Linked DNA regions of Homo sapiens. The protein of the gene in region 5 purifies or fractionates together with the protein of the main gene of each other region. This does not show direct contact. Each region holds a gene or a part of one and is shown on either strand. Other genes may lie near its edges. The genes, in order: RNF10, SRFBP1, LIN28B, TUBA8 and ZC3H8.

Region 1 (3,529 bases), on a different chromosome or scaffold from region 5:
ATTTAGCTAACTCCACCTCAGCCTGGACAGCTCTAATTCTATGTAGCCTTTCTTATGCCTGTAATGGCATTTGAACAAATACGGCTGCAACGTATTATAGAAAGAAAGCAAAAGTTAAATACACAGGACTCTACCCAAGGAGCCCTTGGGAGTCAGGGAGAAGGGAATTCAAATACCAGCTGCATCCCTTACTAGCAAATTACCCAACCCAGGATTCAGTTTCCTCATCCATGAAAGGGGATAGTTCTATCTACCACACTAGAAGCTTAAGTGAGATAAATGTGTATAGCACAAGTCCTATCAAATGCTGATCACTCAATAAATATGGGCTTCTATTGCTCTAAGCTAGATCAGTGGTTCCAGGAGTGTGGTCTGGGGATGAGCAGCCATCAGAATCACCCTAGAACTTGTTATATGCAAATTACTGAGCCTACTGAGCTTAACCTATGCAATCAATATCTCAAAGTGGGACCTAACAACCAGTGGTTGTGATGCTTCAAGAATCTCTGTTGTGGAAGATAAAAGACCCAGGGAATTCTGTTCTTGTGTAATTCTTGCCGTTTCAGGTACTCCTAAGGCATACTGGGCAGGCCATAATACTTTCTCCACAATGTCTTTCAAAACACCTCTAGAATAGAATCTTAAGTATTTTCCCAGAAAACAAAGAACTCTAACTTGCTTTAAGAACATAGCTAATCTAAAAAACTCCACTGTCACAATTAGTTATAAAATCATTTTGACTTGCTCCTTTCAGCTCTAGAAAGAGCTTTAAAAGCCCTAGGTTAAACCTTCTCTACTGTCATCAAACAAAGCCCAAAACAAATTGGCTTTTTTAGCCATTCTCTGCTTATTGTCTTAAATGTGGAATGGAACTAACTTAATCCCCAGCGTCCATCATCTCACCCCCGACAGAGTGAAAAGGTTTAGCATTTCTGGTTTTCACCACAGAACGCCGAGAAAGTGAAAAGGTTTAGCATCTCCAATGCATCCTCTCACCTTGAGCTCCTGGATAGCTGCCTCAATAAAGCAGGACTCGGGAGTGTGCTTCTCCTCTGCCAGCTGCTGCTCTAGTGCTACTTTCTCCTCCAGAACTACCCGGTGCAGCACCTGCTCCTTAGAGGCCAGCAGCAACTTGGAGTACTGGCTGTGCTGTTCATCTATAAGAATGCCAGCAAGATCAAAGAAATGCAACATTCAAAGCTCACGATGGTGTAGCTAAATAGGAATTTTCAAATACAGCCTTTTCTCTGGGGTGAAAATGGGGTAATTTAGCATGATTTCCTAGAAAATAATTTAACAATGGTCTTAAAATAAGGTCTGTAGCTCTGCTCTTGATATAAGAAATCTAAGAAACCCAGAGATGTAGTCAAAACTTTAGTCACGCGTTTATTGTTACAGCATTGTATGTAATATCAGAAAAGCTCAAACCAGCCAGGCACCATGGCTCACACCTGTAATCCCAGCACTTTGGGAGGTCAAGGCGGGTGGATCACTTGAGATCAAGAGTTCGAGACCAGCCTGACCAACATGGTGAAACCCCGTCTCTACTAAAGATACAAAAAAGTTAGTCGGGCCTGGTAGGGCATGCCTGTAATCCCAGCTACTTGGGAGGCTGAGGCAGGAGAATCGCTTGAACCCAGGAGGCAGAGGTCGCAGTGAGCCAAGATCATGCCACTGCATTCCAGCTTGGGCAACAAAAGCGAAACTCTGTCTCAAAAAAAAAAAAAACAAAAAAAACCACACACAGAAAAAGAAAAGCTCAAACCAACCAGTAAAACCAACAATAAAGAATAAAGAAATGGTGGACCAGCGCAGTGGCTCACACCTATAATCCCAGTACTTTGAGAGGCCAAGACAGGAAGATTGCTTGAGTTTAGAAGTTTAAGACCAAGCCAGCTGGGTGTGGTGGCTCACGTTCAGCACTTTGGGAGGCTGAGGCAGGTGGATCACCTGAAGTTAGGAGTTCGAAACCAGCCTGGCCAACATAGAGATACCCTGTTTCTATTAAAAATACAAAAAATTAGCTGGGCGTGGTGACGGGCGCCTATAATCCCAGCTACTAGGGAGGCTGGAGTAAGAAAATCGCTTGAACCCAGGAGGCAGAGGTTTCAGTGAGCCAAGATCGCACCATTGCACTCCAGCCTGGGCAACAAGTGCAAAACTCTGCCTCAAAAAATAAAATTAAAAAAAAATAACACCAGGCGGAGTACGGTGGCTCACACCTGTAATCCCAGCACTTTGGGAGGCTGAGGTAGGCGGATCACAAGATCAAGAGATTGAGACCATGCTGGCCAACATGGTGAAACCCCGTCTCTACTAAAAATACAAAAACTAGCCAGGTGTGGTGGTGCGTGCCTGTAATCTCAGCTACTCAGGACGCTGAGGCAGGAGAATCTCTTGAACCTGGGAGGCGGAGATTGCAGTGAGCCGGGATTGCACCACTGCATTCCAGCCTGGCAACAGAGTGAGACTCCATCTCAAAACAAAAACAAAAACAAAAAAAGCACAACACACACACACAAAAAAAACAAAAATTAGCCGGGCGTGGTGGCAGGTGCCTGAAATGCCAGCTACTCAGGAAGCTGAGGAAGGAAAATCGTTTGAACCGAGGAGGTGGAGGTTGCAGTGAGCCGAGATCACACCATTGCACTCCAGCCTGGGAAACACAGCAAGACTCCGTCTCAAAAAAAAAAAAAAAAAAAAAAAGAGTAGTTCAAGACCAGCCTATCAACATAGCAAGACCTCATCTCTGCTAAAAATAAAAATAAAAAATTAACTATACCTGCATGCCCAGTTAATTTTTTAAAATAAAAAAAATAATTTAAAATTAAAAGTTAATTTAATTAATTAAATTAATTTTAATTATTTTAATGAATTTAATTAATTAAAAGTAATTATTGCCACTGCACTCCAGCCCAGGCGACAAAGTGAGATTCCATCTCAAATAAAGGGTTAATGACATGATGGTATGTTCATTAACGAAAATTCTGTGGACACTAAAAGTGGTTTTCTTGGCCGGTCACAGTGGCTCACGCCTGTAATCCCAGCACTTTGGGAGGTAAGGCGGGCAGATCACTTGAGCTCGGGAGTTCGAGACTAGCCTGCCAACATGGTGAAACCCCGTCTCTACTAAAAATACAAAAAAAATCAGCCAGGCATGGTGGCGGGCGCCTGTAGTCCCAGCTACTCGGGAGGCTGAGGCACGAGAATCGCTCAAACCCGGGAGGCAGAGGTTGCAGTGAGCCAAGATCATGCCACTGCACTCCAGCCTGGGTGACAGAGCCAGACTCTGTCTCAAAAAAAAATATATATATACATATTATATTATATATCTATAAATAAAATAAAAATAAAATTTATCAGTCTTTTACAGCATCTATCATTTCAGCCTGGTTCAAAAATCCACCCATATCTGAGGATTTTTTTTTAATTAATACACATTTTTAATGTTTTAAGTTGCTAAACATTTAAACAGTCAAAATCACTAGGAAAAAAATATTACACACACACATTTACCACCCAAATGAGA
Region 2 (3,500 bases), on a different chromosome or scaffold from region 5:
CAGTAGTCCCCCCCACCAACAATTTTGTTGTCAGCAGTTTCAGTTACCTGCGGTTAGCCAAAATTCCAAATATAAATAACTCATAAATTTTAAATTGTGCACCACTCTGAGTAGCATAATGAAATCTCTCACTGTACTACTCCATCCCACATGGGATGTAAATCATACATCCAGTGTATTTCTGCTGTATCCGTTACCTGCCCATTACTGTACAGAAAATAATAATAATAATAATAATAATAATAATAATAATGACAGAGTTTGGTACTATCTGAGGTTTTAAGCATACACTGGGGGTCTTGGAACATAACCCCCATGGATAAAGGGAGACTACTACAATTTATAATTTGTAAAACAATATGCAGTTTAAAAGTATACAACACAATACTATACACTGGGTATAGATACGTATGTTACTAAAATTGTGAAAAATATATAAGAGAAAAACACACACCAAGAGGAATAATTACCTCTGAGGTAGAAAAGAAGATGGGTGGAATTAAATATTAAGATATAGCAAAACACTGACATTTCCTAAACATAGGAAGTAGATTATAAGAAGATCTGTTACATTATTTTCCATACGTTTGAAGTAATTCATAGTTAACAAAATTATTGGGTTTCTTGTCTTTGTTCGAAACAAGGTCTGGCTCTATTGCCCAGGCAGGAGAGTAGTTGTGTGATCTCGACTCATCACAACCTCCGTCCCCCTCCCGGGCTCAAGCCATCTTCCCACCTTAGCCTCCCAAGTAGCTGGGACTACAGGTACGTACTACCATGTTTGGCTAATTTTTCTGTATTTTTTGTAGAGACGGGGTTTCACCATGTCGCCCAGGCTGGTCTCAAACTCGTGAGCTCAAGTGATCTGCCGGCCTCAGCCTCCCAAAGTGCTGGGATTATAGAGTGAGGCACTGCACCTGGCCAAAATTATTTTTGTATGAAGAGGACCCTAATTTTATCATATGGATGATAACTTATTGTTGATTTTACTTTTTATTTCTGATGAGCAACAATTTTTTAAAATACCTAGAGTGCTTAGTGATTATCTACGATTTAACCATTATTGGGCATATGCTGCCACCTAGCAAAACTTCCCAGAATAGTTTAATAACTAAACACAAATTGGTTCTTACGGAAATGCCCTAATTTAATATTTCAGAAAAAAATTATTAAAAAGTACTATGCACCTAATCACGACACAAGCGTTTTGTAACTTCATAAGCGCATACAAACGTGGTTCTTGACATTCTTATGTTTTACAATATGTGGAGGAAACTCATTTTGTTCTTTGGCACTTTAGTTTCTACCTTTACTGTCTTACATGAAATGAAAAGCAATTTTCTAATGGGCTTAATGGTAATTTGCTATCAAACAATAAAATAGGCCAGGCGTGGTGGCTCATGCCTGCAATCCCAGCACTCTGGGAGGCTGAGGCAGGCGGATCACGAGGTCAGGAGATCGAGACCATCCTGGCTAACACGGTGAAACCCTGTCTCTACTAAAAATACAAAAAAAAAAAAAAAAAAAATTAGCTGGGCGTGATGGTGGACGCCTGTAGTCCCAGCTAGTCGGGAGGCTGAGGCAGAAGAATGGCGTGAACCCAGGAGGTGGAGCTTTCAGTGAGCCAAGATCCTGCCACTGCACTCCAGCCTGGGCGACAGAGCGAGACTCCGTCTCAAAAAAAAAAATAAAAAATAAAAAATAAAAAAAAATAAAATGTCAGTTGTACATATAGGCCGTTGGCCTTCCTATGAAATTAAAGCACTCCATCAGATTGCTACACCTCCTAAATCTGATTTTTACATATCACTGCTGCCTAAATTTTAGAAAACAGATGACTTGAGAAAATCTAGCTCTAGTTTTGCAAATTATTTACGCACTAAATGCTATGGCACTGTTGTTTTCAATTGTGCATTTCTCCTCTAGTTCTAATGGAAAGGGAGGAAAAAAAGCATTTAGGAGATTTTCCCTCTCATTTGAACATTAGTTGACAGTTATGCTATCCATGCTTTCATCTGCCCATTATATACCTACTTCTTATTACCTGTAGACAAGGTACTGTGCTGGAGGTTAGGGAAGCTGCTATAAAAGCAATCAAAAATTCTCTCTTCAAAGTACCAAAAATATGCAATAAATAATCATCAGGATAGAGTAAAAAGTGATGGTTTATTTTTTAGAAGAGTAAAGATAAATTTTTACTTTACTTCGCAAGAATAACAACAAACTTTAATCTTAATCTCTTTACAACATACTTAGTATTGGAAGTTCTGGCCGGGGTAATCAGGCAAGAGAAAGAAATAAAGCGTATTCAAATAGGAAGAGAGGAAGTCAAACTGTCTCTATTTGCAGAAGACATGACTGTATATCTAGAAAACCCCATTGTTTCAGCCCCAAATCTCCTTAAGCTGATAAGCAATTTCAGCAAAGTCTCAGGATACAAAATCAATGTGCAAAAATCACAAGCATTCCCATACACCAATAATAGACAAACAGAGAGCCAAATCATGAGTGAACTCCCGATTCACAATTGCACAAAGAGAATAAAATGCCTAGAAATACAACTTACAGGGATGTGAAGGACCTCTTCAAGAACTACAAACCACTGTTCAAGGAAATAAGAGAGGACACATACAAATGGAAAAACATTCCATGCTCATAGATAGGAAGAATCAATATCGTGAAAACAGCCATACTGCCCAAAGTAATTTATAGATTTAAAGCTATCCCCATCAAGCTACCATTGACTTTCTTCACAGAATTGGAAAAAACTACTTTAAAGTTCATATGGAATCAAAAAAGAGCCTGCATAGCCAAGACAATCCTAAGTAAAAGGGACAAAGCTGGAGGCATCATGCTACCTGACTTCAAACTATAATACAAGGCTATAGTAACCAAAACAGCATGGTACTGGTACCAAAACAGATATATAGACCAATGGAACAGAACAGAGGCCTCAGAAACAACACCACACATCTACAAACATCTGATCTTTGACAAACCTGACAAAAACAAGCAATGGGGAAATGATTCCCTATTTAATAGATGGTGTTGGGAAAACTGGGTAGCCATATGCAGAAAACTGAAACTGGACCCCTTCCTTACACCTTATACAAAAATTAACTCAAGATGGATTAAAGACTTAAACGTCAGACCTAAAACCATAAAAACCCTAGAAGAAAACCTAGGCAATACCATTCAGGACTGAGGCATGGACAAAGACTACATGACTAAAACACCAAAAGCAATGGCAACAAAAGCCAAAAATGACAAATGGGATCTAATTAAACTAAAGAGCTTCTTCACAGCAAAAGCAACTATCATCAGAGTGAACATGCAACCTACAGAATGGGAGAAAATTTTTGCAATCTATCCATCGGACAAAGGGTTAATATCCAAAATCTACAAAGAACTTAAACAAATTTACAAGAAAAAAACAACCCCATCAAAAAGTGGGCGAAGGACATGAACAGACACTTCTCAAAAGAAGTCATTTATGCAGC
Region 3 (3,529 bases), on a different chromosome or scaffold from region 5:
TGATCTATACACAAATATATAAAGACAAAGCCTCTTTATATATGTGTCTACATTCCTATATAAAAATCCTCATGTACACACACAGACTCAGGCTCTCTCCCTCTCACACATGCACATATTGACAGACATAGTATCTTATTCTCTGAATTAACATAAAACATGACACCCTGCTCAAATGTAATTTGCTTAGAGTGATTTGTCTGTTTAAAAAATTCACAGTTCCCCAATAGTAGTTAAAATCCCAGGTCAGCTACTGCTTGTGAAATACTGTTCCCCTATACTTGCATGAGGTAGACTTTGCAACCGGGTAAAGGAAAGAACATATGAAGAAGACCTGTTATGTCTTTTTCCTTTTTTGAACTGAAGGCCCCTTTTTGCTTTGCTCTTCTGGTGCTATAGATGACTTCGTGGAGGAAGCTTCTTGAGGTGACCTGCCTGACCGTTCTGAGATCTCTGCCCTAGCCTCCTGAGGAAACGGTGGTGATGTACAGCCATGCCCGCCTCCCACTTCTCGAGGGAGAGTTGAAGTGCATGGCTGGGATTCTGCTTCCTGTCTTCCCTGAGAACTCGCGGGTGGCTGTGCAACATTTTTATGTGGGCAGTTTGCCACCATGTGCATGATGCTCTGACAGTAATGGCACTTCTTTGGCTGAGGAGGTAGACTACATTCCTTAGCATGATGATCAAGGCCACCACAGTTGTAGCATCTACAAGGAAAAAAGATGAAAACATCTTAGAAGTAGGCAGCATGTATCCAAAAACACATTTTAAAATGTGAAAACACACAAACTACCAATGAGATAAGCTTATTTTAATGTGCCTTCTTAAAAGCATTTATCATTGTTTATACTGGTTACACTGTTGGTTCAAAGACTATCATCACCAAAATGTTCTGGTGAGGTTAAAAACTTAGTTGTGTGAGACACAACTAAACACAGTGAAAAACAAGAGTATTAAAACATGTAAGAATATTTAATCACTTCCATATAGAAAGGATTCCTTTAAATTTGACACTATCTGGTCATTTTAAAAGAACCATTAAGCCCACTAGAGGGCAGCGAATATTCAACAAAAAACAACAAGCCAGTTTTAAAAACAAGAGTGTAGAAATACAGCTGTTGGCATGATACAAAGTGGCAATTCACTCAGAAACTGGCAAAATTTTAGACCAAATTTAAAAGTTTAACACTTCTTTGAATGTTAATTATTTTGACTGTAGAAACCAGCTAAACTGGAAAAATTTTTTTCCTTTGTATAAAATTAAGTAATGCAGTGAAATTTGATATATAAGAAAGTCAGAGTCTAGTCAGAAAGTCAGGATGATATCTGGCAAATTACCAAGTAATTTTAGAGCAATAGAGTAAATGTCTGAATCAGAACAGTGCTAAAAAAAGAAAGCTTCTAAATACTTAGATTGAATTAATAAAGGTTCATGCTAGTTCAATGATGAGAAAAGTTAACTTTCTTTTCTTTTTTGTAAGAAATTAGCTTTCTTTTAGGGTGATCTCTTTTAAGTTAAAATAAATGGAAATCCGTCCATAATATGTGAATGCACACTGGGGACATGGCTTTGTATTAGATGTTTGAAAGTTCAGCTTTTAGCTTGGCAAGGAAAGCTAAGCAAGAAAATTTTTTCAGAGGTATATTTGTTCAATCAGATTTTCTTCTAAAATTTTATATTAAAAGTAACAAAAAAACCATTAGTGGAAGAAACTAAGAAAAATTTATATTTACCAAAGGTGTTAAATCTGATTTTAAATACAGAATTTGTTTAATGACTTGTCTCCAAATGAAATATTTTAAGAGCTTTCTATTTTATTTTCCAAATACATTTATGACTCCATAAATCTCATTTATGAAGCACAAAGAACAACAGGTTATATATATATATTTTTTGAGATGGAATCTCTCTCTGTTGCCCAGGCCAGAGTGCAGTGATCTCGGTTCACTGCAACCTCTGCCTCCCGGATTTGGGCGATTCTCCTGCCTCAGCCTCGGGAGTAGCTAGGATTACAGGCATGTGCCACCATGCCCGGCTAATTTTTGTATTTTTGGTAGAGACAGGGTTTCACCATGTTGGCCAGGCTGGTCTTGAACTCCTGACCTCAAGTGATCCGCCTGCCCCTTCCTCCCAAAGTGCTGGGATTACAGACGTGAGCCACTGCACCCAGCCAGGTTATAATGTTTTTAAAAAATAATAACAAAATGTTTTAACTAGCTGGGTGGCGGTGGCTCACGCTTGTAATCCCAGCACTTTGGGAGACCGAGACAGGCGGATTATGAGGTCAGGAGATCCAGACCATTCTGGCCAACATGGTGAAACTCTGCCTCTACTAAAAATACAAAAATTAGCTGGGCATGATGGCGCGCGCTTGTAGTCCCAAGCTACTCGGGAGGCTGAGGCAGAACTGCTTGAACCTGGGAGGCGGAGGTTGCAGTAAGCCGAGATTGCGCCACTGCACTCCAGCCTGGCGACAGAGTGAGACTCCATCTCCAACAACAACAACAAAAAAAGTGTTAACTGAGAAAATTGGCTTAAGTCCAGACTCACAACAAGAAGTGAATTATGATGACATATTTGTATGTGTGTGAGAACATCAAACTTAATAATTTATTCTACCTTATATTTCATAGACAAACTACTAAGGTACTAACAACCTACTAAGCAGTGTATATAGGATATTTAGTATTTTATCTCCTGGCATAAATTGAACAGTGAATTTTTTAATTGGCAAAAATTAGGGTAACTATTGCCTGCTTCTCCAGTTAGCAATATTACCTTATATACTTTAGAATAATGAATTTATAAGATGGGCTTTTATTCTTTGCAATGATTAACAAGTATTTATCTTAGGACAGACTGAATCATATTTTCAAAAAGAGAAAAAAAAACAAGAAATCACATGTTGTAGTTAAATTATTCATTGTATAATTACATATCTTAATAAAGTATTACAGTGCAGATTCAATATTGTTTCAGCCATATGTTCTAAGAGAGTGTAAGATTAAATAATAAAGTTTACTTGCTAATGCTTAAAATTCAGGTTCTCAAAATAACACTAAAAAATGACATATTTGAAAAATATAACCACATTACTTATAATAATATATTTTCCCACACAGTTCTCCTCTACAATAGATAAGTGAATTCTTAAATTAAAGTTGCCCATCTATAAAATATCTTCTTTTGAATTAAATTCACTTCCTTGAGGATAACTTCCACTCAGGAGCTCATTTTCAAAGAGACAGAAAATAGGTTAAAGGCTTCAGTAATAGGGCTGGCTCTCCTGCAGACACATCAATTTTATCAGTCACCGTGGTATGCACTGTGTTATCCAATTCAGGGAACCATTTTGCCCACTCATTGACCAGGAGCCTGATGTCAGTATTCTACTTTCACAAATGGGATCTTCAATTACCCTCTATCTGTGCATTTACCATTAGATTTGGGCTATAAAAGTTATTTTTAAGGATGCTATATAATTTTGGTTTCCTTACATTTTGATCTGCATAGTTAATTCACCCCCTT
Region 4 (2,241 bases), on a different chromosome or scaffold from region 5:
ACAGGAGGAAAGGCAGGCCCTGCATCTCAGCTCTACCTCCTACTGTCTCCAACACCTAAAACATCCCAGTCTGTTCATCTACACAATGAGCAGAATATCCATTTTGAGACTGTTGGGAGGATTGGATATAAGGTCAGTATGAATATAGAAATAAGGTATACATATCCTGCTTGAAACCTTCCAAATCCTTCTGTTTCACTTAGAAAAAAATTCTAAACTCCTCTCCATGGCCTGTAAGGCTGGATGCTCTCTGGCCCTGCCTGGCTCCTGGGTCTTGTCTCTCTGACTCTTCCCCTCTCACCATCCTCCAGGAAACAATCTCCTTTCTGCTCTGCAGACGCTCCAAGCTTGTTCCTAGCTTTTGCACTTGCTTCTCCCTGCACCTAGCATCCTTTTGCACGGCCCAGGCCTCCATGAGGCTGTCTTGACCACGCAGTCCACAGGAGCACGCCCAGACACTCTCTCACCACTGCTTTTTACTTTCTCTCACTTGACACCAGCTGACATGATCTCATTCACTTTATTTATGTGTGTATGAGGGCAGGAAATGTGTTCGTCTCGCTTATCACCAACTCTCCAGCTCTCAGTGCCTAGGACAGGGTGTGTATTGGAATATGTGATGGGGGAGTGAATGCATGCTAAGTCTAGATGATGCCCGGAGCGGGCTATAGACCCACTCATGTGAACGTCCGCTCACCCCTGCCCCGGAATCTTCCCAGGCCCAGATCTCCCCTTTCTCTGAGTGTTCCCACTCCCCAGCCAGCAGGCCATGTTTTGGGGCTGGACCCAGCCCGATCTGGAATTGAAACTCCTGATTAGGCCTCCTCGCATGTGAAACTGGGCTGCAGCCTCACCCGCCGGAGACAGTGGCCCTCACTTTCTTTAGTGACACAAAGCTGCTCCTACCCAGGGAGGGCCTGATGAAGCTCAGTGTCCACTTAGCCCAGTCGTGCCACCCTGGGTACTGGGGCCAGGCACCCTCCTCCTGGGTAAGGCAGGAATCAGGCTGGGGCGGGGAGAGTGTTCTGTTCTCTTGAACATGTGCTTTGAATGGCACAGCATAAATAAAGAGACACAGCCAAGGGGAAGGTATATATTTAAAATTCCTCCCCTTCATTTTCTTCTTCAAACGAATCAGTCCCCACTTCTTCATAATCCTTCTCCAGGGCAGCTAAGTCTTCCCTGGCCTCAGAAAATTCTCCTTCTTCCATCCCCTCTCCCACATACCAATGCACAAAGGCCCGCTTGGCGTACATGAGGTCGAACTTGTGGTCGAGGCGGGCCCAGGCCTCCGCAATGGCCGTGGTGTTGCTGAGCATGCAGACGGCCCGCTGCACCTTGGCCAGGTCTCCCCCGGGGACCACGGTCGGGGGCTGGTAGTTGATGCCCACCTGAGGGACACAGAAAGAGGAGGAGCCACAGAAGAAGATACAAGTCAGCCAGAGGATAACTCAGGATGGGACATCTTGGTCACTTGGCATGGCTTCAAGTCATGGTCAGGGGCGTGGGAGTGGGGCTATGGGATGCAACAGGCGGGATGGGACTGGGGAAGCCAGCAGGTGGCAAGGGAGAAGCTGAAGAGAAAGTGGAAGCAGGCAGGGCAACAGAGCAAAAACCCATCTCTACCAAAAAAAAAAAAAAAATTAGCCAGGCCCGGTGGCTATGCCTACTAGTCCCAGCTACTCAGGGAGGCTGAGGTGGAAGGATCACTTGAGCCCATGAGGTCAAGGCTGCAGTGAGCTACAGTGGTTCCACTGCACTCCAGTGGCAGGGACACAGCAAGACCCTGTCTCTTAAAAGCAAAACAAAAAAAAAAGTAGATGGGGAAGGGCTGGGCAATCAAAGGCTAGAGAAGGAGGACAGGGCTGGTATAGGGGGCTCAGCAAGTAGGCAAATGAGAGTCACGAGCGACATTAGGAGCGGGTGGGAGGTGTCTGGTACATGTGTATGTGTAACAGGGAAACGCATTCTAGATTCAAAGCTGTTCAAAAGTGTACTCTCTCCCAAGTGGTCATCTGAAGTTCCTCTTAGTTGTGTTGCGAGTAAATTTAAGGAAGTTTCCCTGCCAAGAGTGAAAACTGTTGGAAGAGGTCACAGGGATATTCCAGAGCAATAAATAAAGAGAGCCGAAAGGCCCCGGGATGGTGTTGGCGTTAACCAGGCTCTAGGTTTTTGGGAATTGGGGCTTCTTAGAAGAAAAGCAGGGTCTCCAATCCAAGAAGGTTGTTGAAGGTCTTGCCA
Region 5 (3,529 bases):
TCCTATCCTTCACACATGCAGAGGCCAGGGCTTTAGCATTCTCCCTTTAGAAATAGTCAGGGCCTTTGATAACCCACCTCCATCCTCCAGCTCCCTCTACAAACTAAGCATTTAATGCACCAAGTGGCCAGGTCTCAGATGGGGTCTCTGGCCATGCAAGCTCATGTCTGGTATAAATATTCATGAAAACCATAGTCTTATCATAAGATAAAGTGCAAAGAAAAATCCTCTGTCCGTATATGGACAACTGTGACTGCTTCTCTAGATAAACTTTAAATGATAAAATAGTTTGACTCTTACCCTGTGGGGTATCTTTTACTCCTTCTTTCTTTGTAGATTCTTCAGGTTGAGCAGCATTTGCCATTTCTCTGGCTTGTATGTACTGTTGAAGCTCTTTGGCAAAATTATCTTCTGATTCCTGACTGCAGATATCATTATCACTATATACATCATAGTCCTTACTTCTTGATTTTCTATGCAGCGAACTTTTTGGTGATATTGCAGAGTGTCTAAACTAAGTAAAAATTAAAACTTCAATTTTAAAAACCTAGCATGATTCAAAACAATCTGGCTATACAGAAGAAACAAGATTGGCTATAAACTGGTCATTGTTGAAGGTGGGTAATAGGTACATGGGATTCATATACTATTCTCTCCACTCATATATTTGAAAATTTCCAGAATTAAAAAAAAGAAAAAATTTCCAGAATTAAAAACAAACTAACAAACCACTATGACATATCTATCCTTAAAGATGATTTGAGGGAAAATTCTAAATTTGTACATTGTGTGCCTTTGACTGAATTAAAAGTCTAAACCCCTAAATCTTAATTATTTGATATGAGAGGATTACAGTATTACAGTTCACACATTACATTTCTGCCTTTGCATTGACAGTACTTTTAAATGTCTTCAATAATTTATCATTTTGTAAAACACCCCAAGTAAACTGTAATGGTCCATATGAAAACCCACTTACACTTAAGATACATCTAAGCTACCAAAGTCTAGTCTTTCTCCTATAACTCACAGAAGTGGTAGCAGCAATGATGACAAGGAATAAAGAACTACCCTATTCTCTGTAATCAAGTTAACTTTACTTGCAGAAAGAGTTTCCTAACTCTGTTGTTGCACGTGCCCAAGGCAAGGGTGAAGAACCCAGGCATGGGAGCTAATCCTAGAGGAGCCCAGGCTGATGACAGCAATGACTTAAAGCAATTTCTGCATAAAAATTTTCAGGTATTGGTTACATGTGTTTCTACACTTGGTGACACAGGTATATTAAACTGTATCATTATAATTAGTATGTATGACACATTTTAATCAGAAAGTTTATTTTTAAAAAATGACCAAGTATCAAAGGGCTCCTATTCTGATGTCACGAAGAAATGGCATGCCTATCATTACAGTGGATAATGATTTTGTTTCAAAGCATACTTTGGGGCCTGGTCTCTTATTTGCTTTCACATGATAACTAAGAAGCAAACTCAAAACAAACAGACAAAAAACAAAACAGAAGAATCGCTATTATAAAATATATTAGGTGGCCCAATTTAACAGTTTACTTTTTTTTTTTTTTTTTTTTTTTTTGATGGATTCTCACTCTATTGCCCAGGCTGGAGTGCAGTGGCACGATCTTGGCTCACTGCAACCTCTGCCTCCCAGGCTCAAGCGATTCCCTTGCCTCAGCCTCCCGAGTAGCTGGGACTACAGGCATGCACCACCATGCTCAGCTAATTTTTGTATTTTTGATAGAGACAGGGTTTCACCCTATTGGCCAGGCTGGTCCTGAACTGCTGACCTCAAGTGATCCGCCTGCCTCGGCCTCCCAAAGTGCTAGGATTACAGCCATGAGCCACCATGCCCGGCAACAGTTTACTTCTGATGGTTAACTTCAAAGTTAGGAGTTGTTCCACCAGAGGATTGATTATAAGCCTAGAAAATGAACTTGCTCCCTGCTTAAAGAATCCAAACAAGCTGAGGAAGTTTCTTGATCTGACAATGGCCTCAATTATACCTTATCTTCCCTACACCAGACAAGACTATCAACCAATTATCTTCAGGCCACCAAACTTCTTGTCTCTAGGTCTTCAAGAAAGAGTGCCTTTTCCCCATTAACACCATAGAATAAACTTGTAAATGTAACTTCTGGACTGATAGATCAGGGGTTGGCAAATTTTCAGCTTCACCACCTGTTTCTGTAAATACAGTTTTACTGTAACACCAATTACATCCATTCATTTACATATTGTCTTAGTTGTGACAGAGACAACATGGCCTACAAAGGTGAAAAGATTCACTAACTGATCCTTTATGAAAAGGTTGGCCGACTCCTGTGATAGATTATGTTTACCTTGGTTTTGGCCTTTAATTTTATTTAGTAGGCATGGGGGAACCAAAAAGATTATTCAGTATGCAGCAGCTCCTATGAAGTTTAGCTTAATCAAATACATAGAGGTGAGATTTTCTTCAGTGCATCTGAATCAAAATATTAAAATGATCCAAATGAGTGATTAAGTTCCCTCTGTCTGCACAAAACACATAGGCCTACAGTATTGAAGCAGACTCCTTTTACGACAAGTAATAATACGTTGGACTTACATTAAATGAAGACATGAAACAATCTGGCAACATTAATAAAGCCAGGACAATCATCAATTTTGCTGTTTTATTATACAGTAGGGATAAATATTACTAATGATTCTTTTCAGAGGGCATTGAAATATATAAAATACAAATAATTGAATACTTTTCTTCACTTAGCTAGCTATAAACTCATTGCTTCAGTTTGTTGTTTTTTGTATAATTTAAAAAGCATACGAACATGATTACATCCCCTTTCTCCTTTTGTAAGAGTCTAAATAACTTTTTTTATTCAAGATGGTTTACTGAACTAGTATGGCCTCCAGAAACCTCCAAAATTAAAGTACAGGTAACAGTGTGTGTGTGTGTGTGTGTGTGTGTGTGTGTGCGCGTGTGTATGTGTGTTGTGTTTTGTGTGTGTGTGTGTGTGTGTATGGGAGGCATGAAGTGCATTCATCAGGAATTAAGAGTCAAATTTCTGATAGACAAAAAGGAAGTTATGCTCTAAAGGGTGGGCTTAGGTACAGTGTGAGAAATGGGGCTATAAATGAGAATGAATTAAAATTCTACAAAAAACAGACAAAGCTGTTACAACAAATTCTCTCTGCCCTCTCCCTCTCCAGAACACAACCACCCAGGTACTTTCCCTAGGAAAAAAAGAGAAGGCTGTTATCCAAAGAAATGGAATAGAATGTCTGGTAAAAGCTAAGATGTGGGTACTACGACCACCCACATGGAGGTACTAAATCTTCCATGGGCTGGCATTTGGGAGCAACCCCTACTAGAAAAATACTCCATCCTACTCACCATAAAGCAGGGGTTCTCACCCTGCTGTCCAGAGACCCCCCCCTCAAGGGCCTATGGATTGAATTCAGAAAATTCAGTGAACTTGAATTCAGAAAATTCAGTGAACTTGAATGAGAAGAAAACCACATATTATTTTCAT

The links.
Region 1: the proteins of ZC3H8 (region 5) and RNF10 purify together in Homo sapiens (co-immunoprecipitation; one large-scale study listed by IntAct). This does not show direct contact.
Region 2: the proteins of ZC3H8 (region 5) and SRFBP1 purify together in Homo sapiens (co-immunoprecipitation; one large-scale study listed by IntAct). This does not show direct contact.
Region 3: the proteins of ZC3H8 (region 5) and LIN28B purify together in Homo sapiens (co-immunoprecipitation; 2 studies listed by BioGRID and IntAct, with this or other methods). This does not show direct contact.
Region 4: the proteins of ZC3H8 (region 5) and TUBA8 purify together in Homo sapiens (affinity purification with mass spectrometry; 3 studies listed by BioGRID and IntAct, with this or other methods). This does not show direct contact.

What each region holds. Positions count from the first base shown.
Region 1 is NC_000012.12:120,558,354-120,561,882, reverse strand, and holds part of RNF10 (E3 ubiquitin-protein ligase RNF10), read right to left. Parts: intron 1,158-3,529; coding exon 997-1,157; intron 1-996. UniProt on the Homo sapiens protein: E3 ubiquitin-protein ligase that catalyzes monoubiquitination of 40S ribosomal proteins RPS2/us5 and RPS3/us3 in response to ribosome stalling.
Region 2 is NC_000005.10:121,964,975-121,968,474, reverse strand, and holds part of SRFBP1 (serum response factor-binding protein 1), read right to left. Parts: intron 1-3,500. UniProt on the Homo sapiens protein: May be involved in regulating transcriptional activation of cardiac genes during the aging process. May play a role in biosynthesis and/or processing of SLC2A4 in adipose cells.
Region 3 is NC_000006.12:105,075,592-105,079,120, reverse strand, and holds part of LIN28B (protein lin-28 homolog B), read right to left. Parts: intron 708-3,529; coding exon 338-707; 3' UTR 1-337. UniProt on the Homo sapiens protein: Suppressor of microRNA (miRNA) biogenesis, including that of let-7 and possibly of miR107, miR-143 and miR-200c.
Region 4 is NC_000022.11:18,129,993-18,132,233, reverse strand, and holds the end of TUBA8 (tubulin alpha-8 chain), read right to left. Parts: intron 1,392-2,241; coding exon 1,098-1,391; 3' UTR 502-1,097; downstream 1-501.
Region 5 is NC_000002.12:112,238,015-112,241,543, forward strand, and holds part of ZC3H8 (zinc finger CCCH domain-containing protein 8), read right to left. Parts: intron 1,240-3,529; exon of another isoform or gene 1,107-1,239; intron 515-1,106; coding exon 301-514; intron 1-300.